7 linked regions of the Homo sapiens genome follow. The protein of the gene in region 1 purifies or fractionates together with the protein of each later gene. This does not show direct contact. Each region holds a gene or a part of one and is shown in the gene's direction. Other genes may lie near its edges.

Region 1 (3,500 bases):
ACTCAGGGAGATTGGGGTTACATAAAAGTTTATATGGTGCTGTTCTACATAAAATTGGAGAAAGTTCAGTTGATTTAATAGAGGTAGGGGCTGTTTTTTTCCTCTTAATTTTGATAAGGACAGAAACTCACACAGTGATATGAAACAAGTTGACAAAGAGAATTTGTATTTTAGGCTTTGAACATTGAAGAGGTGTAATACTTATTGCTTCAGACAGTAGACAGTACATATTTGGAATGGGTTATCTTTGAAAGTGGATAAAGATTGAAAATACAAATAGGTGCAAAAGAGGTAAAGATACATTTACAGAGCTGTATTGGACCCAATGGCAAACTAGGATGTTTCAAAAGCCATTCAAAGCAGGTTACATTTTTGAGGACAACCATAGCCTCCTGCAAACATCCCTTGGTGTGCTTTCCTGAAACCGGATACTGGTTTGAATAGCCTGTGAGTCTGCCTTAGTATGGAAATTGCCATTTTTTAATGTGGGGTCAGTGCACCTGGGTTGTGTGTTACAAAATCAAACATGAACTTCTTTGGGAGTTCCTTAGCAGGTTCACATCCTCCCAGGAAGGAGCAGGGGTGGTGGAGAGCATAGGACATCTGGCCCTAGGGTGTTGCAGCAGCAGGAGTCCAGGGTTTCTGCCTCTCTGAGTGTTAACTTCCTCTTCTCAAACTAACTTCCTGCATTTAGTGAAAAACTGGTTTCACGTGATTCCCAAGCTGCAGATCCCCCCAGTGTCTGCTGGGAGGGGTCTCTCCTCTTAGTTCCAGTTTGAAACCTTTCAAAACAGCCTTCTGACTGGTCCTGCTGTGGTCACATGCAGTCCCACCCTCCACCACCTATTGTAGCCAGGGAGGGGCAGGCTGTAAGCACAAGGTGGGAGAGGAGGAGGACAAAGTGGGCACTTGAGGCTAAAGAGTGCTTTTCTGGAAGAAGGAAAGGGTACAGGATAGACAGCAGAGGAACTAGCTACCACGTCGTTTCACCAGTGGGACTCTGAGCTCTGGCCAGAAACCTCAGCCACTCATGAGCTGTCTTGCCTATGGCCAACATTAGGGGTTTCTCAGTTGCTGGTAGTCTGTTTGACTGGCTTGTATATAGGTATAGCAGAGGTTTATTTGTATGGAGAATTGGGTTCTAGTTGTAACTTGTACTTGCCTTCATTTAGTCAAAGTTTGTATAATTTTTAGGAAGCCCAGCTTCTAGGCCTGCAACTTCTAGCTGTTATAACTTTGCAAAACACTTTCATATAATTGTATTTGACCCTCTTGATGACCTTGGGAAGCAGTTAAGGCAGGCTTTATTATCACCATTTTGCATATCAGGAAACCAAGACTCAGAGAAGTCAAGTAATCTGTCAACATACAATAGAAATCCAGTGGCAGAGACTGTCAGCTCTCTCAAGTCCTTTTCCAGGACTCCTGCATGTGCCAGAGGCCACTCTGCTGACTGAATAATGATGCCTCACCACTGTGGGAGAGGCCAGAGGACCAGGAAAGGCTGGTCTCAAACTGCTCTCAGTTTGATGACTAGGGACCAGACATACCTCCTTCCCTGGAACCAAACCTGGTTGCTCTCAGTCACCCCAATCAGGTCTGTCTTTTCTAGCACTCCACAATTTTTCCTGCTTCCCACATAGTTCATGCTCCATCCATGCTCCATCTCAGTATGTTTGCTGGTCTTTGTGGCTCTGAGTTGGCTGTGAACCTGAATATTTTTACTAGCTTCTTCACCAGTGCACAGGCTGTTCCTAGAAACATGGTTGTTGATAGGGACAGCCCTGAAAGAATGGAGATTTTGTCTTCTATGGTCCTGCTGAAGGCTAGTTTCTAATTTTTATATTTATTTATTTATTTATTTAGAGACAGAGTCTCACTCTGTCGCCCAGGCTGGAGTGCAGTGGCACGATCTCGGCTCACTGCAAGCTCCGCCTCCCAGGTTCACGCCATTCTCCTGCCTCAGCCTCCCGAGTAGCTGGGACTACAGGCACCCGCCACCATGCCCAGCTAATTTTTTGTATTTTTAGTAGACACGGGGTTTCACTGTGTTAACCAGGATGGTCTCGATCTCCTGACGTCGTGATCCGCCCGCCTCGGCCTCCCAAAGTGTTGGGATTACAGGCGTGAGCCACTGCGCCCGGCCTCTAATTTTTATTTTTTTCTCCAAAGCTTCAAAAGAAAGTTACACTTAGAGGAATCTATTACTTCAGTAATCACATAATTTTCCTGGTGCATGTCTCTCTTGCTTTCTTGGTTTGCCTCTTGTAGTCTTTGAAGAAACAAAGAGCTTCAAAGCCAGGAAAATGACCCAGATCTCTTTGACAGCAGTGCTAATGTTTTGGGAAGTGAAGGCATATAGTTATTACTGAAATTAGTGTTCCTGGAAGCTGCAAGTTACTTGAAAATTATGCTGATTTGTCTTGCATGCATTGTATTTGTGTCCTACCAAAGTGTTTCCAAGGAAGTATCTGGCAAACAGGCAGGAGGGTGCCGGGGCAGTGGGACGGGGAGGGTCTGAATATATTCTGATGGCTGAAGTCTAAAGAAAATGAACTGGAACCTATTTAGGACATCGTATTGCATAAGCATGAGAGTGATAATCTCATCTCTCTTTTTCTTTTTTCTATTGGATCTTCTTAAGAAACCTGAATAGCCTTGATATGATATCTAAAAATAAAGTAAATGGTGCTTTGATGTCTGTACTTTCTCCTCCATGTAACAGTGGGTGTATGTTTCTCAGAGTTTATCTCCTGTGTGCCAAAAATCAGAGAGGCTCAGGAACAAGTGTCCATTGCTTCCAAGTCATAAGAACAATTGGCAAAAATCACTTGTCTTGTGTCTTTGAACTTTAAATGCAGTGAAAAAACTTGTCTTAACCAAGAGAGGGATAAGAAAGAGCTGCCAAGTTTGAAAAACCTGCTGATAAATAACTTCATACCAACTGTACAACAACCTGTACTATATAGTCTGTAGATGAAAAATCATGTACCATTTTGGCTTGTACAATACTTTGTGGCTAACTTTAAAAAATACGGAATGGTTAAGTCTGTGCATTAATACGTGCTGTGTAACCTAACTTCTCAGCATTATAATGTCACAGATATCTGGGGGTGGTGGGGAGAAGTATATGCAGCTATGTATAGAATATACACAGCTCTCCCTCCTTTCTCTTCCTTCTGCCCCCTGGCTGTGTGGTCTACTGGCTGGATTGCAATAGCTGGATTGCAGCTGGTTAGATGACTCTGCTGGTTTTTGAGGATGAGGAGGACAGGACAAGAGAGGGAAAATTTTAAATGTTTATATCATAGGAGAATAGTCATGTCAGAATCATTGTGTTTCCAAGCTGCAGTTTGTGCTTTTTAAGTTAAGAGGTATGGGACTTCAGATTAAGAGTTTCTTTACAGTATTATAGTTTAAAACATTGGCTCTGGATAATAGTTGACTGAGTTTAAATCCTGGCTCTATAGTTGACTTGCACTCTGACCTTCAGGCAGGTT
Region 2 (3,500 bases), on another chromosome or scaffold:
CTAGTTTCTTGTTTGTTTGTTTGAGACGGGGCCTCACTCTGTCACCCAGGCTGGAGTGCAGTGACATGATCTTGGCTAACTTCAACCTCTGCCTCCCAGGTTCAAGTGATTCCCCTGCCTCAGCCTCCCGAGTAGCTGGGACTAAAGGCATGCGCCACCATGCCTGGCTAATTTTTATATTTTTGATAGAGACAGGGTTTCACCATGTTTGCTAGGCTGGTCTCAAACTCCTGGCCTCAAGTGATCCACTCACCTTGGCCTCCCACAGTGCTGGGATTATAGGCGTGAGCCACCACGCCGGGCCTAATTCCCTAGTTTCTTAATTTCTCTGAGCCACCTTTCTTGCTATTGATCACTACCTCACAGCCTTACTCTGCTTTTCTAGCCCCTGACAGCTATCTAGGTCTTTTCTTTATCACAATCTAAGGTTGGCATCAGTCTTTATTCCCGTAGAATAGATGGGTTTATGGCTGAAGGTGACGGCTCTGCGGTGTGGAGTGTCAGGAGAGTTGCCAAGAGGGCTGCAAAGACACCAGACGAAGCCTGTGCTGAGCACAGTGGGAGGGGCCTGAGGCTGGTTTCCCCATGTGTTTGAAGGGTGATGTTTCTGAATCTAAAGTAGCTGATAACCAGTTGTCTTGCTCTTCTTCCAGAACTCCATCCGCCACAACCTTTCCCTGCACGACATGTTTGTCCGGGAGACGTCTGCCAATGGCAAGGTCTCCTTCTGGACCATTCACCCCAGTGCCAACCGCTACTTGACATTGGACCAGGTGTTTAAGGTGAATGCCCTGCTTTCCTCTAAATAGGGCCTAAGTTGGAGGTTGTCATAGCCATCTCAAAAGGAAACAAGTTCTGCTAGTGATGCTTTCATTTGATCAGGGGAGAGTTAGAAGCCAGCCACCCAATTAGTGACTTGCACAAAACCCAGTGAATTAAGTACACTTGACAAATACCAAATGACACATTTTTGTGCCAGACCAGAGCAAGGAGAAGGCTGTTCTGACCCAACAGAAAGGGCTCCCCAGGGCAGTGTTTTCCTAACTTCCCTGTGAATGGGAATTGCCTGGGACATTGTTAAAACACAGCTTCCCAGACCCCTCTCTTGGGGCTCTTGATTTAGTGCTTCTGGGATGGGCCCAGGAATTTGTATTTTTAGCAAGCATCTCAGGTGATTCTTACAAGAAATTCTGGGAATGCTTGCTCTAAAAAAAGCCCTTCCTGCTGGGTGTGGTGGCTCACGTCTGTAATCCCAGCACTTTGGGAGGCTGAGGCAGGTGGATCACCTAAGGTCGGGAGTTGGAGACCAGCCTGACCAACATGGAGAAACTCCGTCTCTACTAAAAATACAAAAATTAGCTGGGTGTGGTGGCGCATGCCTGTAATCCCAGCTACTTGGGAGGCTGAGGCAGGAGAATCCCTTGAACCCAGGAGGCGGTGGTTGTGGAGAGCTGAAATCGCACCATTGCACTCCAGCCTGGGCAATAAGAGTGAAAGTCTGTCTCAAAAAAAAAAAAAAAAAAAAAAAAAAGCCTGCCTTAGGCTGGAGACCAGAAGCTGAGCTACCAGAACGTCTTTTCAGAAAGAAGTTATTTTGGTTTTTCAGAGTGCCCATAAGGCTGCTGGTAGCTGTAACCATTCTCCTGGGAGGGGCAGTTGTCTGGGGTGTCTTTTGTCATCAGTCAGGAATAAGTGTTTTTCCCAATCCGGTCAAATTGACCACGTTGGTGGTAACTTCATCTCATTTCTCTCCCACAATGCCTGGCCGCCACCAGCCACTGGACCCAGGGTCTCCACAATTGCCCGAGCACTTGGAATCAGTAAGGTTCTTTCCCTCTGGCTCGGGGCTTGGCCTTGTTTTCCTTTCACTGCTCAGCATGGCTTTAGTGGACAGAGACAAGATGTGATGTGGGGAAGGGTCCCTATGGCCATGTTTTGTCTAGGTGCCAGCCCTAGACACAGAACACCCTGAGGGTCAGGCACACACCCACTTCCCTCCCCTTCCATGGGCATCACAAGGGCACACTGAGCAGAGCAGGGCACAGCAGGGGAGCATGCTGCAGCAGCCACAAGCGCATGGCACCAGCCTCAGGGGCGGCAGTTCGTTCGCTCACTTTTGTGCCTAGCTTTTCTTTGCCACGCATATAGCTACCTGCTCTGGCATCCCCCAGGGGTGTTGAGGACACGTGGGTGAAGCGGTAGTGCCACTCTGCCATCATGTGTCTGTAGGCCACCCACCTGCCCACTCATCACAGTTTTGGAGACTGCTCGCCTACGTCCATCCCCTCAGGTTGGCCTCCTCTCTCTGGGCTGTCATTAACTCAAGCACACACCACCAGAGCAGCTGGTGGGGTTTTGCCATCCCCTCTTTACCTTATTGTGTTAACATAGGTTTCTTTCTCTCCCCATCTGCCACAAGCAGCAGCAGAAACGACCGAATCCAGAGCTCCGCCGGAACATGACCATCAAAACCGAACTCCCCCTGGGCGCACGTTAGTATGGGAGAGTGGGCCTTGGGCCTGGTCCTTGTTCTGGGGCCATATCTTTAGGGAACCAGACTCTGGGATTCTGTTCCCACCTCAAAGGGATCTGAGCCCAGAGAAGGAGAGCAAAGCTCCTGGGGCTGAGAAGGGGTGTACTCCAGTCCCCCTGCTCCTGATCTCTCGTGTTTCCTCCTAGGGCGGAAGATGAAGCCACTGCTACCACGGGTCAGCTCATACCTGGTACCTATCCAGTTCCCGGTGAACCAGTCACTGGTGTTGCAGCCCTCGGTGAAGGTGCCATTGCCCCTGGCGGCTTCCCTCATGAGCTCAGAGCTTGCCCGCCATAGCAAGCGAGTCCGCATTGCCCCCAAGGTGGGTGTCCTATTTTCCTCTGAAGAGAGATTCTGGCCAATTAAGAATGTTGGACCTTCAGCTTGCAAAGCACTCTGATAAGTGTTCCTTGAGAGCTTATAAATCTAGTTGGGTAGAAAAGGCATAAAAACATAGGGAAGTGTAATAGCATTAGAAGAGCTAAAAAGGTATTTGGATTACAATGTAAGTGGTGTCAGAAGGCCCATAAATACCTGATGAGCTTGTAAGAATTCAGACAAAAGTGATTGTGATAGATGGGCTAGGATTATTAAGGAAGATACACAAGGGAGGCAGGCCTTAGAAAGAGATGGATTTGGCCGGGCGCTGTGGCTTACACCTGTAATCCCAGCACTTTGGGAGGCCAAGGCAGGTGGATCATGAGGTCAGGAGTTTGAGACCAGCCTGGCCAACGTGGCGAAACCCCGTCTCTACTAAAAAATACAAAAATTAGCTGGGCTTGGTGGCACATGCCTGTAATCCCAGCTACTTGGGAGGCTGAGGCTGGAGAATCACATGAGCCCAGGAAGGGAAGTTGCAGTGAGCCGAGATCACTGCACTCCAGCCTGGGTGACAGAGCGAGACTCTGTCTCAAAAAAAAAAAAAGAAAAGAAAGAAGTGGATTTGAGGCTAGACGCTGTGGGTCTC
Region 3 (3,500 bases), on another chromosome or scaffold:
GGTTGGGCCAATAAAGCCCCTTCATCATCCTTCTTTTCTGCTTATCACTAGAGACAGAAACTAAAAACCATGGCTTCAGGCTGCTAAAAGCCTAAAACAAAACAGAACAACAACAACAAATAAGGCAGGTTGGACAAGCTTGCTGAGTATTTGGGAGCCTTTTTCAAAAGTCTGATTTGGGGGAAGTAAAGTCACTTATTTTAAGCTACCTTAGTATAGCACCTAAAGAGTTACTTTGTGAATTTTGTATGGCTGCAATTGAAAAAAAAAATTGCTCACTTTCACTTGCATTTAAAAATCAGAGCTCTAAAAGTTAATTCTTGTTTTTTATTGGGAAACTCTGAGAGAAACATTAATTGATGAGGGTAATAATTTTGGTATAAAGCCAGTGAAATTTTAATGCTTAACATGTTGGGTTTTTTAAAATTACTGATTGAAACTCTTCCTTTTCTATTTAAAGATGATGAAAAAGATGAGCATACTTCTAAAAAGCGCAAAGTAGAGCCAGGAGAACCAGCAAAGAAGAAAAAGTAGAAACAAATGACCAGAATTTCTGTACTGCTAAACTTGTTGAAATGTTTCTTTGGACAGATTAAGTTGATATTGTGGGTTATTATGCCACATCTCCATGAAAATGCATACGTTAATGAACTAATAAGTATTGCCTCAAGAACTTTCCACTATAGAATTCTTTTTTTATTTAAAACATGTATGTATTTAAAACTCAACTGGTGACTTGTGATTGTGAAATTGATAACACTTGGATGCATTCTTGCTCTCACAGAATTGGTGACATGCTTTGAGAGTTTTGTCACATGTTGACATGCCAATGTTCTTATAAACCTTTTATAAAGGAATATATTTTTAAAGTAAATATATTGTAATGTACTGTGAACTTGTAGGGTGCTTTTCAACAGTCTTTGTACAGTGTAAATAGATCATGGAAATAAAATTACTTATTCAATATTACTATTACTGTATAACATTAACATTTGAATGTTTGTCTGTGACAAGTACCCTATTTGTCGTGTGACATTTTAAGTTGTAATAAGAAGTATTACCATTTAAAGAGTGCCTCCTGTGTTCCAGGTGCTTTGTGCATATATTTTCTCTGATCCTTAAACAACCTAGCGCAAGGTATTATTAGTATTCTCATTTTATAATAAAGAGTGCTTGAGTAGCTTGTCTGATGTTACACAGCTAGTGAGTGGTTCATTTGGAATTTAACTTGGGACACTTGAACCTCAAAATCATCACATTAAACCACCTGTCCACCAGTCAAAATTTAGTCATCTTTCAGGAATGACATCAATTGTCATCTCTTCCAGGTACTTTTTTCTGTTGTACCTGGAGATCCGTTAGTAGAGATCTTTTCCTCTCCTGATTGGATGACTGTACTTGTCATCTGTGCTTTATGGTTATTCATTAATTTCTTTATTAAATTGTAAGTTTACAGGACATTCAGTTAAATTTGAATTTCAGATAAATAATGTTTTAGTATATTTAATATTCAGGACATATACAAAAAATGTGTTTATCTGAAATTCAAATTTAACTGAACATCTTTTATCTGGTAACCCTACTTCTACATGTTTTCTCTACCCAGCTTCTATTTTAATGCTTTGCGTATAGTAATAATAAAATGAACAAGAAGTAGTTGGGAAGGTGTGATCGTTGAGTTCCAAAATGCAGTTATTTGTAGCATTTTGAACAATAAAAAGGTTACACTCTGCATCAATCTTTCCATGAATCTGAAGCCCTTAAGAGATAAGAATTACAGAACAGTGCACATTCAGTGTATAAGAACAAGACAGCCAAGCATGGTGGCTTATGCTTGTAATCCCAGCACTTTGGGAGGCCAAGGTGGGAGGATAGCTTGAGGCCAAGAGTTGGAGACCAGCCTAGACAACATGATAAGACCTCATCTTTACAAAAAATAATTTAGAAAGAAAAAGACATAATCTAAGTATTTTTTTTTAAATCTGTTTTTCCCCATTGTGGAAGATAAAATTTGAACAATTACGCGAGATTTGTTTACCTAGGCATGTGTATCAAGTAGATTAAAATTCATAAAAGTCATTAAGAGTGATTGCATCAGCCATGGTGCTTTGTGGAATGAAGGTCCATAACAGCATGATGGCTTCCAGTATATCATCGAGTTTAGAAAAACCAATTCTATAGCTGCCCATCCTCCAGGTTTGCAAATATATGAATCCCAAAATTGAAGTAATTGCTAAAGCAAGAATATGTTTTTTTAAGATTGTAGTCTTTGTAATGAATTTGGAAATCTGTGGTATCATATACTAAGGAGTGGCATCAAGTGACAAAGCAAGACCATAGTATGTACATGACACCAAACACAACCAAATCAAGTTATATTTGTGAAGTTGTGATTCCCAAGCTCTGGAGAAATCTAAAATTTGGATGCATGTGTTGGTGGAGCAAATATCTCAGAAGTTACTGAAATATTGCAAGGTTCTTAAGTTAGCATGAAAGCAAACTTTTTTCTCTCTTTCCTGGGAGATGTGCAGAGTATGTTGTATGAGGAGGAAGACAGGACTTAGGGAAGAGGCTAAATATTTTGGAGCAAGTCTGACTCAGCCATTTGTATCTCCTGGTTGGAAAACGGACTGTCATATCACTCTACATTCATCATCACATTAGAGAATAGATTATTTTCCCCTTTAGAGATGTCCTGGGAACGTGTTTGCACAAGTGTCCATGTGGGTACTGAGGTGAAGTTTGGTTGAGCTAGTGGAAACCTAGTGGGGAAAAGTCTTAAAAATCCATATACATAAGAAAAATCATCTGTCCAAGTATCTTTCATTTTAGAGAATCGAGTCACTTGATACTTCTGATTGTTTCCTGCACTTTAAGTTAAGCCTGGGCAACATGTTGAGATCCTGATCTGGTTTGGCTGTGTCCCCAACCAAATCTCACTTGAATTGTAATTCCCACAATTCCCACGTGTCATGGGTGGTGACTGAATTATGGGGGTGGGTCTTTCCGGTGCTGTTCTTATGATAGTGAATGAGTCTTACGAGATCTGATGGTTTTAAAAACCATCAGTGCAGGGAGTTGCCCTGCACAAGCTCTCTGCCTGCTGCCCTCCACATAAGATGTGTCTTGCTCCTCTTGCCTTCTGCCATGATTGTGAGGCTTCCTCAGCCATGTGGAACTGTAAGTCCAATTAAACCTGTTTCTTGCAAATTGCCCAGTCTCTGGTATGTCTTTATCAGCAGCATGAAAATGGACTAATACAGTTAATTTGTACCAGTAGAGTGGGGTACTGCTGAAAAGATACCCAAAAACGTGGAAGTGACTTTGGAACTGAGTACAAGGCAGAGCTTGGAATGTTTGGAGGGCTCAGAAGAAGACAGGAAAATATGGGACAGTTTGGAACTCCCTAGAGGCTTGTTGAATGGCTTTGACCAAAATGCTGATAATGATATGAACAATGAAATCCAGGCTGAGGTGGTCTCAGATGGAGATGAGGAACT
Region 4 (3,500 bases), on another chromosome or scaffold:
GTCTCCAGTTTCTCTCTATTATTAGAGGACAGCAGGCTGGAAGTGGGAGTATGTATAAAGGTTTTATTAAAGGGCAGAGATGTGAAGTTTTTTTCCATATTTCATATTTCTATAAGCTAATTTTCAAAAATAGAATTACTTGGGCAGTTGGGCATAAGAGCAAAGCTTTTTGAAAAACTTTTGGGTTCACGGGTACACGGTCAGATTTGTTACATAGGTAAACTCGTGTCATGGAGGTTTGTTTTACAGATTATTTGGTCACCCAGGTACTAAGCCTAGTACCCAGTAGTTATTTTTTCTGATACTCTCCCTCCTCCCACCCTCCACTCTCAAGTACGCTGAAGTGTCTGTTATTCTCCTCTTTGTGTCCATGTGTTCTCATCATTTAGCTCCCACTAATAAGTGAGAACATGCGGTATTTGGTTTTCTGTTCGTGCGTTAGTTTCCTAAGGATAATGACCTCCAGCTCCATCCATGTTCCCGCAAAAGACATGATCTCATTTTCTTTTATGACTGTTTAGTGTTCCATGGTGTATATGTACTTTTTCTTTATCCAATCTGTCATTGATGAGCATTGAGGTTGATTCTGTGTCTTTGCTATTGTGAATAGTGCTGTATGAACATTCACATGCATATGTCTTTATGATAGAATGATTTATATTTCTTTGGGTATATACCCAGTAATGGAATTGCTGGGTCAAATGGTAGTTCTGTTTTTAGCTCTTTGAGGAATCACCACTCTGCTTTCCACAATGGTTGAACTAATTTACACTCCCACCAACAGTGTAGAAGTGTTCACTTTTCTCTGCAACCTTGCCAGCATCTGTTATTTTTTAACTTTTTAATAGTAGCTATTCTGACTGGTGTGATATGGTATCTCATTATGGTTTTGATTTGCATTTCTGTAGTGATCAGTGATGTTGAGCTTTTTTTCATTTGCTTGTTGGCCACATGTATATCTTCTTTTGAAAAGTGTGTGTTCATGTCCTTTGCCCACTTTTTAAATGTTTTTCTATTCTTTTAAAATTGTTTAAGTTCTTTATAGATGCTAGATATTAGACCTTTGTCTGATGTATAGTTTGCAAATATTTTCTTCCATTCTGTAGGGTATTTGTTTACTCTGGTGATAGTTTCTTTTGCTGTGCAGAAGCTCTTAAGTTTAATTAGATCCCATGTGTCAATTTTTGCTTTTGTTGCAATTGCTTTGGCATCTTTGTCATGAAATCTTTCCCCATTCCTGTGTCCAGAATGGTATTGCCTAGGTTGTCTTACAGGATTTTTATAGTTTTGAGTTTTACATGTAAGTCTTTAAACCATCTTGAGTTGATTTTTTGTCTGTGATGTAAGGAAGGTGGGTCCAGTTTCAATCCTCTGCATATGACTAGCCAATTATCCTAGCACCATTTATTGAATAGTTTTCCCATTGCTTGTTTTTTGTTAGCTTTATCAAAGATCAGACAGTTGTAGGTGTGCAGCCTTATTTCCGGGCTATTTTGTTCCATTGGTCTGTGTGTCTGTTTTTGTACCAGTACTGTGCTGGTTTGGTTACTGTAGACCTGCAGTAGTTTGAAGTCAGGTAACATGATGCCTCCATCTTTCTTCCTTTTGCCTGGGATTGCCTTGGCTATTCAGGCTCTTTTTTGGTTCCATAAGGATTTTAAAATAGTTTTTTCTAGTTCTGTGAAAAATGTCATTGGTAGTTTCATAGGGATTGCATTGAATCTACAAATTGCCTTGGATAATATGGCCATTTTAATGATATTGATTCTTCTTATCCATGAGCTAGAATTTTTTTTCCATAGAGCAAAACATTTTTAAAGGTCTTTAATTTTGTAATTGTGTTTTAACGGCTTATTCCAATTTATACTGCCACTAGCAATCAAAGAGTTAGGTTTTACCTGTACCTCTTGCCAATAATGGATATTTTTATTTAATCTTTTCTACCTTGGCAAACAAACTTAAAAAAGCTATCTTTGCTTTAATTAATAGTTGATATCCTAATGATTATTCTATCAGTTCTTTATATAGAAAACATATTAACTACAATTTATTGCAACATTTCTTAGCCATTTCTCTTTAAATTTTGTTGTCAAATATGTTGATTTTTTTTCTTCTTTCTTCTGTTACTTAAGTTAGGAAAGTCCTTCCTCCAAAGGGTTGGTAAATAATTCTAGTTTCTTCTAGGCTATCTGTGGTTTCACTCTTAATACTTTATTTCAGCTCTGTTATTTGAATATACAGAATGAGATGAAGCTTTTAAACTCCTTTTCCCCACAGATTTGATCATCTTTTTCCCTAGCATTAAATAACAGTTCTCTTTAACTTGTTGTTTAATGATGCATCCTCTAACATATATTAAATTCTTAAGTAATGTGTTTCATTGTATCTATTCCTATATATTTTATTAATAACTTTATAATTTAGCATCAGATCCTTTATTCCTTGTTTCTGGAGAATACCAAATGCATACCATCTTGTCTGAGGGTAATGAACACAACTGAAAATTATAGTATGTCCTCTTGGGCCTGGGATGTATTTGGCAATTATATCGTCCAGTAGTTTTCTAACTTATTAGGGAAAAAGGGAAGAATACTTGGGGAGGTTATTTATTTATTTTGGCAACATATTTTCAACAATCACCTTATATTCTCCATATGTTTTGGGCAGCATGCAGGAGGGTGACATGGGAAGCTATAACTTTTTAAAAAAGTAATGGTTAGTGGCTTTTCTCCCTTGAGCTTTAAAAACAGTGACAAACTCCAGCCTTCCCATTTTACAGTTGAAGTAACAGACTTGTTTGACATTCTTATTAATGATAGAGATTGGTGGAGATTTACTTTCAAGGGGATGGGTTTTTTCATAATGGGAAATACTAATAAAATTTAAAATATACATCTAGATACAGCATATTGCTGTAATACTTGATTTAGGTAGTTTTATAGATTTGCTCAGAGATGCATCAGCTCCCTGGTGTAAATGCTGAGTTGTACAAAACAAATGTTTTTAAAATACTTCTCTGCCTCAGTGGTATGGCTTTCTCTCCAGAGTTGCTCACTAACTGACATCTTTTTAAAGGAATAACTGGGTTGAGGTTTGCTTTTTTTGAGGTGGGGAGGTGCTGTGTCATCTGTTGTCCTGTGTCCAAGAGAGCTGAAGTTTTTTCCCCCTTATATAGGACCCTATATGAAGGAAATATATATAAAATATTAGGAGATTGAAGGGTCTTTTGAGGATGGGACCCTATGTGGCTGCCACTGCTCCATCAAGAATAAGGAAAGTTCAGGTAATATGTGGGGAAGGTGATGCCTTACCTAGCACCACGTTTCTTTAAGTATAGCCTGTTGATAAGGCTTAGCTCCCCAGGCTCTTCTAAGTTAGGTTTCTATAATCAATTATTACCAATTGTATGTGTAAACAGTCTTTAGAATATAAAATTATAGCTAATGAATTTATTCTTGTCTCACTCTGGATAGACCAAACTAGTATCAGCTAAAGATAAA
Region 5 (3,500 bases), on another chromosome or scaffold:
ATTGACCAGAAAATAGAAATTATAATTACTATCTAACATCTGATAATACTCTCACTACATCAGGTTCAAGATGTTGTTCCTATAACTAGTTATGACACTGCTGGATCATTCCTTCTGCTTGGATGTAACAATGGATCAATATATTACATAGGTAAGTGTTCAGTCACTTAAAATGCTCCTGCTTAATGTAATTTTTTAAATGAGAACAAGAAAACATTACCTTTCAGTTTTAAATAGATATGCTATTTATTTTAATGCTGTTTAAAATTTTTATGTTTTAGATATGCAGAAGTTCCCCTTGCGAATGAAAGATAATGATCTTCTTGTAACTGAACTGTATCATGATCCTTCAAATGATGCTATTACTGCTCTGAGTGTTTACCTCACACCCAAAACAAGTTAGTACATGGCCAATTATATACATTCTTGACTTTTTATCTTTTTATTCATTAGTTTATTATGTGACTAGGTCAAATTAAACTGGTTTATTTCTTTTTGAGAACTGCAGTGCCTAAGGATTTCATCTCTACTAAGTCTAAAATTTGTATTCAGTTTTATACTGAAGTCAAACATGACCAGTAAACAAACATAATTTGAGGTGGAAAATTGGAACTCCCCTTACGCTGAATTGCATTTGTTGAGCCATATTATTATAATGTTAGCTGAAATTTCAAAAAAAAAAAAAATTCTGCACATTTGTCTTCCTATTAAAATAACTAATTTTTCACTTAAAAATTAGGAGCTTTTTAAAAAATAAAAAGTTCTTAGACTACTGCTGGAAACTAAGCTTATTTTCTTGGGAATTTAAAAATTTAAGCTGTAGAAAAAAGGCATTTTATAACTTTCAGTGCATTTTAGAGGCCATTGCAATAAAAGTAACAGACTAGTTCTGTAAAGTAGTAAGAATTTTTGTATTCTGGAGTAAAAGATAAGCACAAATGGGAAATTTAAAATTTATCTGTAATGAAAGGAGTTCTAAGAAACAATTTGTATTCAGTAATACTAATAGGTTTGGATGTGCTACTTATATAAGTCATCATTTCATTTAAGTTATTAAAAGAAACCATAATTTTTAGTATGAAAGAAATATTCAAGAGTATACCTATGAATTTGACTGAAACCATAGTAGGACTTAAATTGTATTGCTCTAGAAATAGGGTTTAGTAAACCACGGATTTCTAGCCAAGCTGGCTCTTTTTGATACCACTGTCTTTGGATGTTTTTATGCCACAATGACAGAATTGAGAGGTTGTGACAGAGACAGTGTGGCATGCAGAGTTTAAAATGTTTACTACTTGGCCCCTTACGGAAAGTGTACCAACCCCTGCTCTAGAATGAGCTGTGGATTTTTTTTTTAAATCTAGTTAAAAGGCAGGCATAAAACTGGGAAAGTTTTACAAATCAAAGCACTTCTTTTGTAGTGGCAGGGGGATTTTAAGGCATGAAAAATGGAGTCATCTTTCTGGTTCTAGGAGGTGTTTTTCATGACATGCTTTTTTTCCTTTGATTCAAGTATTTTCAGATGAATCAGTTAGTAAAACTAGAACAGCCAGTAAAGCTAAGATGTTCTCTATCCATGAAGCTTTTAAGAGTATAGGTCACTGAATTTTTTCCTATCTAAATTTGCAATGGGGTCTGGGCACTTTTTGAAAAAAAGAAAACAAAAGACACAGCTGAACCTTAGATGATTAGAAGAAACAACATATTTTAAGTATGATGTAAGCAATGTAATGGGTATGTTTATTCCCTAGCACAGTGTTTTGAAACTTAAATAGTATATTTAATGCTTGATTATTTGAGAATGATTTAGTATTGTAGTTTAAGTAAAGCAGATGGTAATTCTAGGCTAGACATAATAAGGAATATTGCTTTTGGAATACTATGCTGTTTCAGTAGTGTTCTTGGCATGGCAGATTTATGAATTCTTTAAACTATGTTGAGTACCTGCGGTGTCTCAGGCACTCTGTGAGGTGACAGATAAAAAGATGATTATGATTCAGTCTTTGTCAATAAGGAATAGAAGTAGCTAGACATAGAAATAAGTACAGAATTAGTGTGTTATAATTACTGTGATAGAACCTAATAGTGCAAGGCAGGAGGTGAATAGTTACGTCTTGGAGTGAGGGTTAGGAAAAGATTTATCAAGGAAATAATGATTTTAAGATGACCGGAGAAGTCTTAAGATTTTTTTTTTTACTGAACTGGATTTGGGGCTGATATAAACAGTGAATCCAGCTCTGCCTATTTTATCATAGGGAAGCTTTGCGAGGGTAGCTTTTTTATTATCGTTCCATAATGTATCACCTGTCAACTCTTGACTTTATATAGGTGTCAGTGGTAACTGGATCGAGATCGCCTATGGTACGAGCTCTGGAGCAGTACGAGTGATTGTACAACACCCAGAGACAGTTGGGTCAGGTCCTCAGCTTTTTCAGACTTTCACAGTTCACCGAAGTCCCGTAACAAAAATCATGCTATCAGAGAAGCATCTTGTATCAGGTAAAATGATTTCATTATACTGGTAAGGAACTTGGCTCTGTGTGTTATTTTCATTAAAAGAATGAAAACGCAGTGTTTATGTGAGAAAAATATACTAAAAGAAGTACTAGAAAAGTTTAATGACTGAAGAAATTATGATTGTCTTTTAAAGATTTCTTTGAGCTGGTCGTGGTGGCTCATGCCTATAAATCCTAGCAGTTTAGGAGGCCAAGGCAGGTGGATTGGTTTAGCCCAGGAGTTGAAGACTAGCCTGGGCAACATGGTGAAACCCCACCTCTACCAAAAAAGAGGAAAACAAAAAAAAGATGTTTTTTATTTTACCTGGTTTTAATATACTTAAATTTAGGAGATGTGATTTTTTTTTTTTTTTTTGCTCTCTTGGCATATCTTATTGCAAAATATTTATTATGACCCTGCTAAGAGGAATTTTTATTAAATTTTTCAAGTTTTACTTTTAATATAAATTGGGTTGATTATATTATGGTTTAATGCTAAAACTGTAGATTTAAATGTGTATTTTGATATTTTGTCATCTCAAAAATAATAAAAATTACAATTGTAGAGATTATTTGAAGAAAATAAGCTTTTCTTGGGTTTGTAGTTCTTCATAATATAAAATTTTTAATTAAATATTAATTGGATACATAAAAAATTAAATACTAATTTTCAAGTTTAACGAATAGTACTTTCTGATTACAAAGTAAAATTCTATTGAAGAAATTCATTGTGTATGGAAGATGATTTCTAAAAGGCTTTGTGAAAATTGCATTGTGAGTTGGGTGTGTCAGTAAAGCTTGCTTTCTAGAGGAGTCTTACATTAACTCCTTTTGTAGAGCAGTTCTTGCCCAACTTAAAATTTTTACAAACATGGTTTTCATGTGTCAGATTTGTTTTTGTGAAGGCTGGCTAGAAGATAATGCATCTTTTGTGAAAGATGTAGTGAAAGTTTCTCAATCTAATTAAACACCATGTGGAGCTGAAATTCAGTCCATAGCTGAATG
Region 6 (3,500 bases), on another chromosome or scaffold:
AAAATTAGCTGGTTTTGGTGGTGGGCGCCTGTAATCCGAGCTACTTGGGAGGCTGAGGCAGGAGAATTGCTTGAACCTGGGAGGCGGAGGTTGCAGTGAGCGGAGATTGCACCACTGCACTCCAGCCTGGGCGACACTCACACTGGGTGACAGTGTGAGACTCCGTCTCAAAAATAAATAAATAAATAAATAAATAATAATCTTGGCCAGGCACAGTGGCTCACTCTTGTAATTCTAGCACTTTGGAAAGCCAAGGTGGGAGAGTCCCTTGAGCCCGAGTTCAAGACCAGCATGGGCAACATGGCAAGACCCCATCTCTAAATAAAATAATAAAATTATTTTTAAAATTTTTAGAAAAAATGTATTTGATGTATTTCAAAGACTGTTTCCCAACCCCTCTCTTTTAGTGCCCGAAGTGACGAAACCAAGTTTAAGCCAACCAACGGCCGCCAGCCCAATTGGCAGCTCTCCATCGCCACCAGTCAATGGTGGCAACAATGCCAAAAGGGTGGCAGTGCCGAACGGACAACCGCCAAGCGCCGCCCGCTACATGCCTCGGGAGGTGCCGCCGCGATTCCGTTGCCAGCAGGACCACAAAGTGTTACTAAAACGTGGGCAGCCCCCTCCACCGTCCTGCATGCTCCTTGGGGGTGGGGCAGGGCCTCCTCCCTGCACAGCACCTGGAGCAAACCCAAACAACGCACAAGTGACAGGAGCGCTGCTGCAGAGTGAGAGTGGGACTGCGCCAGGTAAGGCACCCTGTGAATCGAATGCATGGCAGCTTGACAGAGAGAGAGCACTTTGTTTGCATTGCTTGATGTAAAGTCCAGGAAAGCCATTCATTATATAAACCACTGGGATTAGTCAAAAGATGAGAGAGGATCCTAGTATGCGATGTGTATTGGTGATTCTTGGAACTGAGGTTTAGTGTTCCGTAAGTGTGTGCTCTTGGCATAAGGGCTAACTTAACTGCTGTTGCTTATTATTTTGGGGGCCTTTTTTCCTTCTCAGACTAGAGTGTTACAAATTTGAGCCTCCATAGTTCCACCGTCATATGTGTTCAGGGCATAATTGGACATGGGGCTTGTGCGAAGGCGAATCTTTAGATGCCTGTGTTATGTTTCCAGAATGCTAGGAGGATAGAGAAAATGATTTGCTACATTGCAATATAGAATCTTCGGAGGATTCTAAAATAATACTATAGTTTTTAAATTAGATTTTTAAACTCAGTATTTCTTTTTGTGGGCCCTGGATTTTGAGCTTTGTTAAAAACTGTATGTAGAAATAAGGGATATTTAGCTGAAAGGTTCTACTAGAAGTTTTGAGAGTTTTTGGCCGGGCACGGTGGCTCACGCCTGTAATCCCAGCACTTTGGGAGGCCGAGGCGGGTGGATCACCAGGTCAGGAGATCGAGACCACCCTGGCTAACATGGTGAAACCCTGTCTCTACTAAAAATATAAAAAAATTAGCCAGGCATGGTGGCGGGCTCCTGTAGTCCCAGCTACTCGGGAGGCTGAGGCAGGAGAATGGCGTCAACCCAGGAGGCGGAGCTTGCAGTGAGCCGAGGTCGCGCCATTGCACTCCAGCCTGGGTGACAGAGCCAGACTCCGTCTTAAAAAAAAAAAAAAAAAAGTTGTGAGAGTTTTTAATAGATGAATACTAAGTCAACTAACAGCTAAGAAATTCTAAATATCTTTTAAAGTTTATTAACAGATTTCAACTTAAAATGTCTTTTGGGGTGATATTAAAATTCAGAGCTTGAATACCATTAGGCATTGGCAAAGATAATGAATTGATGGTTGTCACCAGTAGGATGCTTTATTTGAGTTCTGAGTTTAAACAAATAATTGCCTAGAAAATTTGGTCACCATCTTGCTGTGTGCAGAGTAAGGATGGAAAGAAACCTCGTGGTGACACAGACTTCCTGCAGAGATAAGCCCTACCCATGGCCTTTCCTTCCTGGCTCTCCAAACCAGCTGCAAAAGGAAGCATGTGAAGGGGCAGGCCCTGTCAGGCGGAGTTTCTGCAGCCGAGTGTAGCCAGGCCTAGGTGGAGACTGGGGTCCAGTGTGAGTCAGAGTCCACATTATTAAAACGGAGGAGGCCCCTAAATCTCGAGTTTCGGTTTCTATGCTTTTTATTTTTCTATGCCTCCGTATAATACTTTTTGAAACTTCAAATTGATTAAAAGCTGCCTGGTTAAAGAAGCCAAAATAAATTTAGAAGAAATGATCTCATTAAAAACATGTTTTTCCCACCAAATATGGTAAATTCCACCAAAATATATGGTGAGCCAGACTCATTTAACAGATTAAGTTCCTTGGGGTTGTGAACTCTGCCTAATTCATACTCATGTGACACCCCTGCCACCCTGGGCACCTAGCTCAGTGGCTCAGTGGGTATTCATCATTCAGCAGATGCTTACTCCGCAGCATTGTGCTGGCTGCTGTGTGGAATTCTAACGTTAGCAAGTTAGGGTCTCTGCCTAAAAGACGCTAACATGGGGAAGGAAAGTTGTGAACATGGTGCCACAGCACTGAGCAAAATGGCTCTAGACAGGGAAAGATTATTTTCAGGTGATGAGCTTGAAAACAGCTTCGCAGATGAAATGACACTTGAATTGGGCCCAGAAGGATGAGTAAATTTCACTGTGTGAATTCAGCAGGAAAACACAGTAGGTGCCAACGTGAAATGGTGCCAGAGTGAGAAGGCACAAGTTGTGGAATGTCAAGTAGTATCGAATATTGACATCTACATAGGAGGTAGTAGAAGATAAGACTAGAAAAGTTGGTTGGTCCCAGGTCATGGAACATCTTGATGACATTCGAGGCCAAGGAGTTCAGCTTTATTCTTGTGCACTAAGGAACTGTTGAAGGTTCTCCATACAGCAGTGATATAATCAAAAGTGTGCTTTAGAAAGATTGCTCCAGCCAGGGGTGTTTAGAGTAGGTTGAAGATACAGAGCAAGTTTAGAGTGCCATTGCTATTGCCTTGTCCCAAGATACAAGAAGGCCCTTCTCTGTCAATAGGAATGGCAAAGGACGTAGCTTTGAGAGAGATGAAGTTAGACTTAACCGGTGTAACACAAGGCAAATGAAAAAAAAGAGATGACTAAGACAGTTGTGATACAAGCAACTGGGTTGAGAGAAACTGGCATGTGATCAGCTCTCCTAAGGGCAGAGCTCAAAGGAGAGCCCCTTTGAGGGATTAATGGGTAATGAATGCATTTGAAGCTGTGATTAATAAGATGATCTGTTCCCCAGACTCAACCCTTGGAGGTGCTGCTGCTTCAAATTATGCAAATTCCACTTGGGGCTCGGGAGCCTCCTCCAACAACGGCACCTCCCCCAACCCAATTCACATCTGGGACAAGGTGATTGTAGACGGGTCTGACATGGAAGAGTGGCCTTGTATTGCCAGCAAAGACACTGAATCTTCTTCCGAAAACACCACCGATAACAACAGTGCCTCGAACCCTGGCTCTGAGAAGAGCACTCTGC
Region 7 (3,926 bases), on another chromosome or scaffold:
TACTTATTTGGGTTGTCCTCCCCAGATGTTTCCCATTGGTTCCCTGTAGATGTATTTGGCCTGGTTGCAGAGGGCCTTCCGGGTCAGATGCCGCCCTCTGTCATCTGGCCTTCCACCTAAAAGGTTAACTGGGTCTCCACCTTCACGATGTTTACATTACAGGGGAATACACAGCAGCTTAGAGCAGATGGGCGACCAACTCTCCACGCTGGTCTTTCTTGGTTTCCTGAGGGTAGTGGAGGACAAGAGGGGAAAGCAGGGTCTTGCTCTGTCGCCCAGGCTGGAGTGCAGTGGCACAATCACCGCTCACTGAAGCCTCGACCTCCTAGACTTAGGGGACCCTCCCGCTTCAGCCTCCCGAGTAGCTGGGACTACAGGTGCGTGCCACCACACCGCACTAATTTTTTTCCTTTTTTTTTTTTTTTCTTTTTGGTAGAGACGGGTTTCTCACTATGTTGCCCAGGCTGGTCTCGAACTCCCGGGCTCAAGCGATCCTCCCGCCGCGGCCTCCCAAAGCGCTGGGATTACAGGTACGGCCACTGCGACCAGCTGCTTCTCCTTGGTGGACTGATCAACACCAACAAGGCGGCGCACGTCCCTATTACTCACGCCTTCGTCAGGCTCCTGGAGAATATTCATCCAGTCTTCCAGAGGCATGACGCTCCGCCTCCTCTTGACAGGTGGCTGGCCCAGGATCAAGATTCCCCTCCAGGCCACCGCTCCACCTGGGGAGGCCTCAGCCGCGGCCGTAGCCGCGGTGGCCTCCATAACGGCTGCAGTCGTCCCCGCCTAGAGCCTGGTTTTGGAGCCTCGAGGACGCCGACGAGGCTGTTTAACTTCCCGTGAGTCCCCACCCTCGCCGCTCCGCTGGCCGGGAATTTGGCAAGGCTTTGCCCTACGCGGTAAACACGTAAGCCTACTGGCCTCCGCATTTCCCTGAGCAGCGACCTAGATGACGCCAGACTGAGGGAGCCGCAACCACTGGCTACAGTTGACACGGCCCTAACGGAGGCTTCTCGCGAGGCTTGGCAGCCCCATAGCCATCTCAGGGACAAGGAGGCTGTGATCAGATCTCGCGAGGTTCAGGAAAGCGCCCCGGGAACTGGGCCGCTGGGCCAGCCCCTGCGTCGGGGGGCAAGATGGCAGCCCAGGCTTTGGCGCTGCTGAGAGAGGTAGCGAGGCTGGAAGCGCCGCTGGAGGAGCTACGCGCGCTTCACTCCGTGCTGCAGGCAGTGCCGCTCAACGAGCTTCGCCAGCAAGCGGCGGAGCTGCGCCTCGGCCCGCTCTTCTCCCTGCTTAACGAGAACCATAGGTGAGAGGACCCCGGGGGCTTGAGCCGAGGAGAGGGGCACCCCTAAATATGGACATGAGAGTGGTTGAGGGCAAGAACAGCGCTTTTCCCAGTCACAGGGGAGGTGGAAAGTAGCCGAAATTTGCAGAGAAGGAAGGATCCTGGGTTCAGAGGCAGGAGATGGGGTTCAGGTTCAGCCTCTGAGAGTGCCCCAGGGTGTTTTCTCCCGTCGCCTGGCCTCGCTGCCTCTGAGCAGTGAGGCACTGCCTTCTTCATCAAATAGAAATTAAAGGAGGAAAGCAAAGCTGTCCACTTACAAGGAGCATTCCACATCTCTTTGTACAGGTTCTTGATTTGTTTCCCCTTCTAAAAGGATCCTATCCTGGCAATGTGGCAAGAACCATCAGCATTTTAAATTCACATGCTTTTTCATCCAGTCATTCTTGTTAAAAAAATTTAATGCAAGTATACGCGCACAAAATGTGCAGTTACTTTGTTCTTTCGAACCCGAGGCTGGAATCGCCCCAAAAGCAGCGGCAAGAGAGTTCCCACGAGGGAGTGCTTCAAACCTTCCCGAGATGTGGCTGGTTGGGATGACAGAAAAAGAAGCACTGAATGCCAAGGCGATCAGTCCAAAAGCGTTTAGGGGGAAACCTGCAGAGGGCTGCAGAAATTGTCAAGACGGACACCGGGAGAAAGGTGTTCCTGGGTATGTCCGCAGTGAGGGGGTCAGGGTATGGAGTTCAGATGAGAGTTTAAAGGAATTTGGCTCAGGGTTGAGGCCAGTTTCTTCCAGTGTTTTGGGCAACAACCTAGGTACCTTTATCAGGCCTGTGAATGTTCAAGGCCCCTGGTTTATGGTCAAGCCTGCTAGGGAAACCTGCCGCTGGCTAGGTCAGAGAGCAATCAAGGCACTCTGATTTTCCATCAGGACAGAGAAAGAAAGGGGGCGACTGGAGGACCCTACAACATTATATGCAAGAATATAACATATCGTGTGTGGCACCAGAACACTAGAAACAATCTAAATATCCGTTAACAGAGGATTCCAAATTATGCGCTATTACTCTGTAACACTGTGCAGTTATTTAAGTTATTGAGGTAGATGTATATATATGTATGTGGACATGGAAAGATCTCTGTGTTTTGTTTTGTTTTGTTTTGTTTGTTTGTTTGTTTTCAGACGAGTCTCGCTCTGTCTCCCAGGTTGGAGTGCAGTGGCGCGATCTCGGCTCACTGCAACCTCCGCCTCCCTGATTCACGCCATTCTCCTGCCTCAGCCTGCCGAGTACCTGGGACTACAGGCGCCCGCCACCACGCCCGGCTAATTTTTTGTATTTTTAGTAGAGACGGGGTTTCACCATGTTAGCCAGGATGGTCTCGATCTACGGACCTCGTGATCCGCCCGCCTCGGCCTCCCAAAGTGCTGGGATTACAGGCGTGAGCCACTGCGCCCGGCCAATCTCTGTGTTGTTGAATGAAAAAGAAAATCGCAGGGTATATCAATCTATAATTTTAACCTGTAATTTTTAAAAAGGATTACAATCTTCCCAACCCCCACAGGCATGTAAAACTTGTATAACATTGCAAATATCTGCAAAGGTACACCAGAAACTATTAATAGGGAAGTGGGTCTGAAAATAGTAGGACAACTTTTATTTTTGATTTTTTACACATCCGTAGTGTTTGATTAAAAACACTTTGTAGGCCCGGTGCAGTGGCTCACGCCTGTATTCCCAACACTTTGGGAGGCTGAGGCGGGCAGATCACCAGGTCAAGAGATCGAGACCATCCTGGCCAACATGGTGAAACTCCGTCTCTACTAAAAATACAAAAGTTAGGCCAGGCACGGTGGCTCACGCCTGTAATCCCAGCACTTTGGGAGGCCGAGGCGGGTGGATCACAAGGTCAAGAGTTCGAGACCAACCCGGCCAACATAGTGAAACCCTGTCTCTACTAAAAATACAAAAATTAGCCGGGCATGGTGGCACGTGCCTGTAGTCCCAGCTACTCTGGAGGCTGAGGCAGGAGAATCTCTTGAACCTGGGAGGCAGAGGTTGCGGTGAGACGAGATCGCTCCACTGCACTTCAGCCTGGGCAACAGAGTGAGATTCCGTCTCAAAAAAAAAAAAAAAAAAGCAAAAATTAGCTGGGCTTGGTAGCGCACACCTGTAGTCCCAGCTAGTTGGGAGGCTGAGGCAGGACAATCACTTGAACCTGAGAGGTGGAGGTTGCAGTGAGCCAAGATTGCACCACTGCACTCCAGCCTGGCAACACAGTGAGACTCCATCTCAAGATAATAATAATAATATAATAATAATAATAAAAACACTTTGTAGACCGGGAGCAGTGGCTCACACGTGTAATCCTAACACTTTGGGAGGCTGAGGCGGGTGGATCGCTTGAGCTTTGGAGTTTGAGACCAGCCTGAGCAACATGGTGAAACCCTGTCTCTACAAAACAAAACAAAAAATTAACTGGGCGTGCGTGCCTATAGTCCCAGCTACTTAGAGGGCTGAGGGGGAGGATCCCTTGAGCCCAGGAGGCAGAGGTTGCAGTGAGCCAAGATTGCACCACTGCACTCCAGCCTGGGTGACAGAGTGAGGCCCTTTTTTTTTTTTTTTTTTTTTTGAGA

What was found.
Region 2: the proteins of RNASEH2B (region 1) and FOXM1 purify together in Homo sapiens (affinity purification with mass spectrometry; one large-scale study listed by BioGRID and IntAct). This does not show direct contact.
Region 3: the proteins of RNASEH2B (region 1) and C1orf52 purify together in Homo sapiens (affinity purification with mass spectrometry; one large-scale study listed by BioGRID and IntAct). This does not show direct contact.
Region 4: the proteins of RNASEH2B (region 1) and HERPUD2 purify together in Homo sapiens (affinity purification with mass spectrometry; one large-scale study listed by BioGRID and IntAct). This does not show direct contact.
Region 5: the proteins of RNASEH2B (region 1) and KCTD3 purify together in Homo sapiens (affinity purification with mass spectrometry; one large-scale study listed by BioGRID and IntAct). This does not show direct contact.
Region 6: the proteins of RNASEH2B (region 1) and TNRC6B purify together in Homo sapiens (affinity purification with mass spectrometry; one large-scale study listed by BioGRID and IntAct). This does not show direct contact.
Region 7: the proteins of RNASEH2B (region 1) and PSMD5 purify together in Homo sapiens (affinity purification with mass spectrometry; one large-scale study listed by BioGRID and IntAct). This does not show direct contact.

What each region holds. Positions count from the first base shown.
Region 1 is NC_000013.11:50,916,291-50,919,790, forward strand, and holds part of RNASEH2B (ribonuclease H2 subunit B), read left to right. Parts: intron 1-3,500. UniProt on the Homo sapiens protein: Non catalytic subunit of RNase H2, an endonuclease that specifically degrades the RNA of RNA:DNA hybrids. Participates in DNA replication, possibly by mediating the removal of lagging-strand Okazaki fragment RNA primers during DNA replication.
Region 2 is NC_000012.12:2,863,675-2,867,174, reverse strand, and holds part of FOXM1 (forkhead box protein M1), read left to right. Parts: intron 1-653; coding exon 654-782; intron 783-1,775; coding exon 1,776-1,820; intron 1,821-2,229; coding exon of another isoform or gene 2,230-2,290; intron 2,291-2,419; coding exon of another isoform or gene 2,420-2,422; coding exon 2,423-2,492; intron 2,493-2,679; coding exon 2,680-2,855; intron 2,856-3,500. UniProt on the Homo sapiens protein: Transcription factor regulating the expression of cell cycle genes essential for DNA replication and mitosis. Plays a role in the control of cell proliferation. Also plays a role in DNA break repair, participating in the DNA damage checkpoint response.
Region 3 is NC_000001.11:85,249,663-85,253,162, reverse strand, and holds the end of C1orf52 (UPF0690 protein C1orf52), read left to right. Parts: intron 1-460; coding exon 461-534; 3' UTR 535-3,210; downstream 3,211-3,500.
Region 4 is NC_000007.14:35,639,636-35,643,135, reverse strand, and holds part of HERPUD2 (homocysteine-responsive endoplasmic reticulum-resident ubiquitin-like domain member 2 protein), read left to right. Parts: intron 1-3,500. UniProt on the Homo sapiens protein: Could be involved in the unfolded protein response (UPR) pathway.
Region 5 is NC_000001.11:215,601,804-215,605,303, forward strand, and holds part of KCTD3 (BTB/POZ domain-containing protein KCTD3), read left to right. Parts: intron 1-63; coding exon 64-151; intron 152-281; coding exon 282-398; intron 399-2,328; coding exon 2,329-2,499; intron 2,500-3,500. UniProt on the Homo sapiens protein: Accessory subunit of potassium/sodium hyperpolarization-activated cyclic nucleotide-gated channel 3 (HCN3) up-regulating its cell-surface expression and current density without affecting its voltage dependence and kinetics.
Region 6 is NC_000022.11:40,261,425-40,264,924, forward strand, and holds part of TNRC6B (trinucleotide repeat-containing gene 6B protein), read left to right. Parts: intron 1-407; coding exon 408-749; intron 750-3,263; coding exon 3,264-3,500.
Region 7 is NC_000009.12:120,840,123-120,844,048, reverse strand, and holds the start of PSMD5 (26S proteasome non-ATPase regulatory subunit 5), read left to right. Parts: upstream 1-1,126; 5' UTR 1,127-1,139; coding exon 1,140-1,312; intron 1,313-3,926. UniProt on the Homo sapiens protein: Acts as a chaperone during the assembly of the 26S proteasome, specifically of the base subcomplex of the PA700/19S regulatory complex (RC).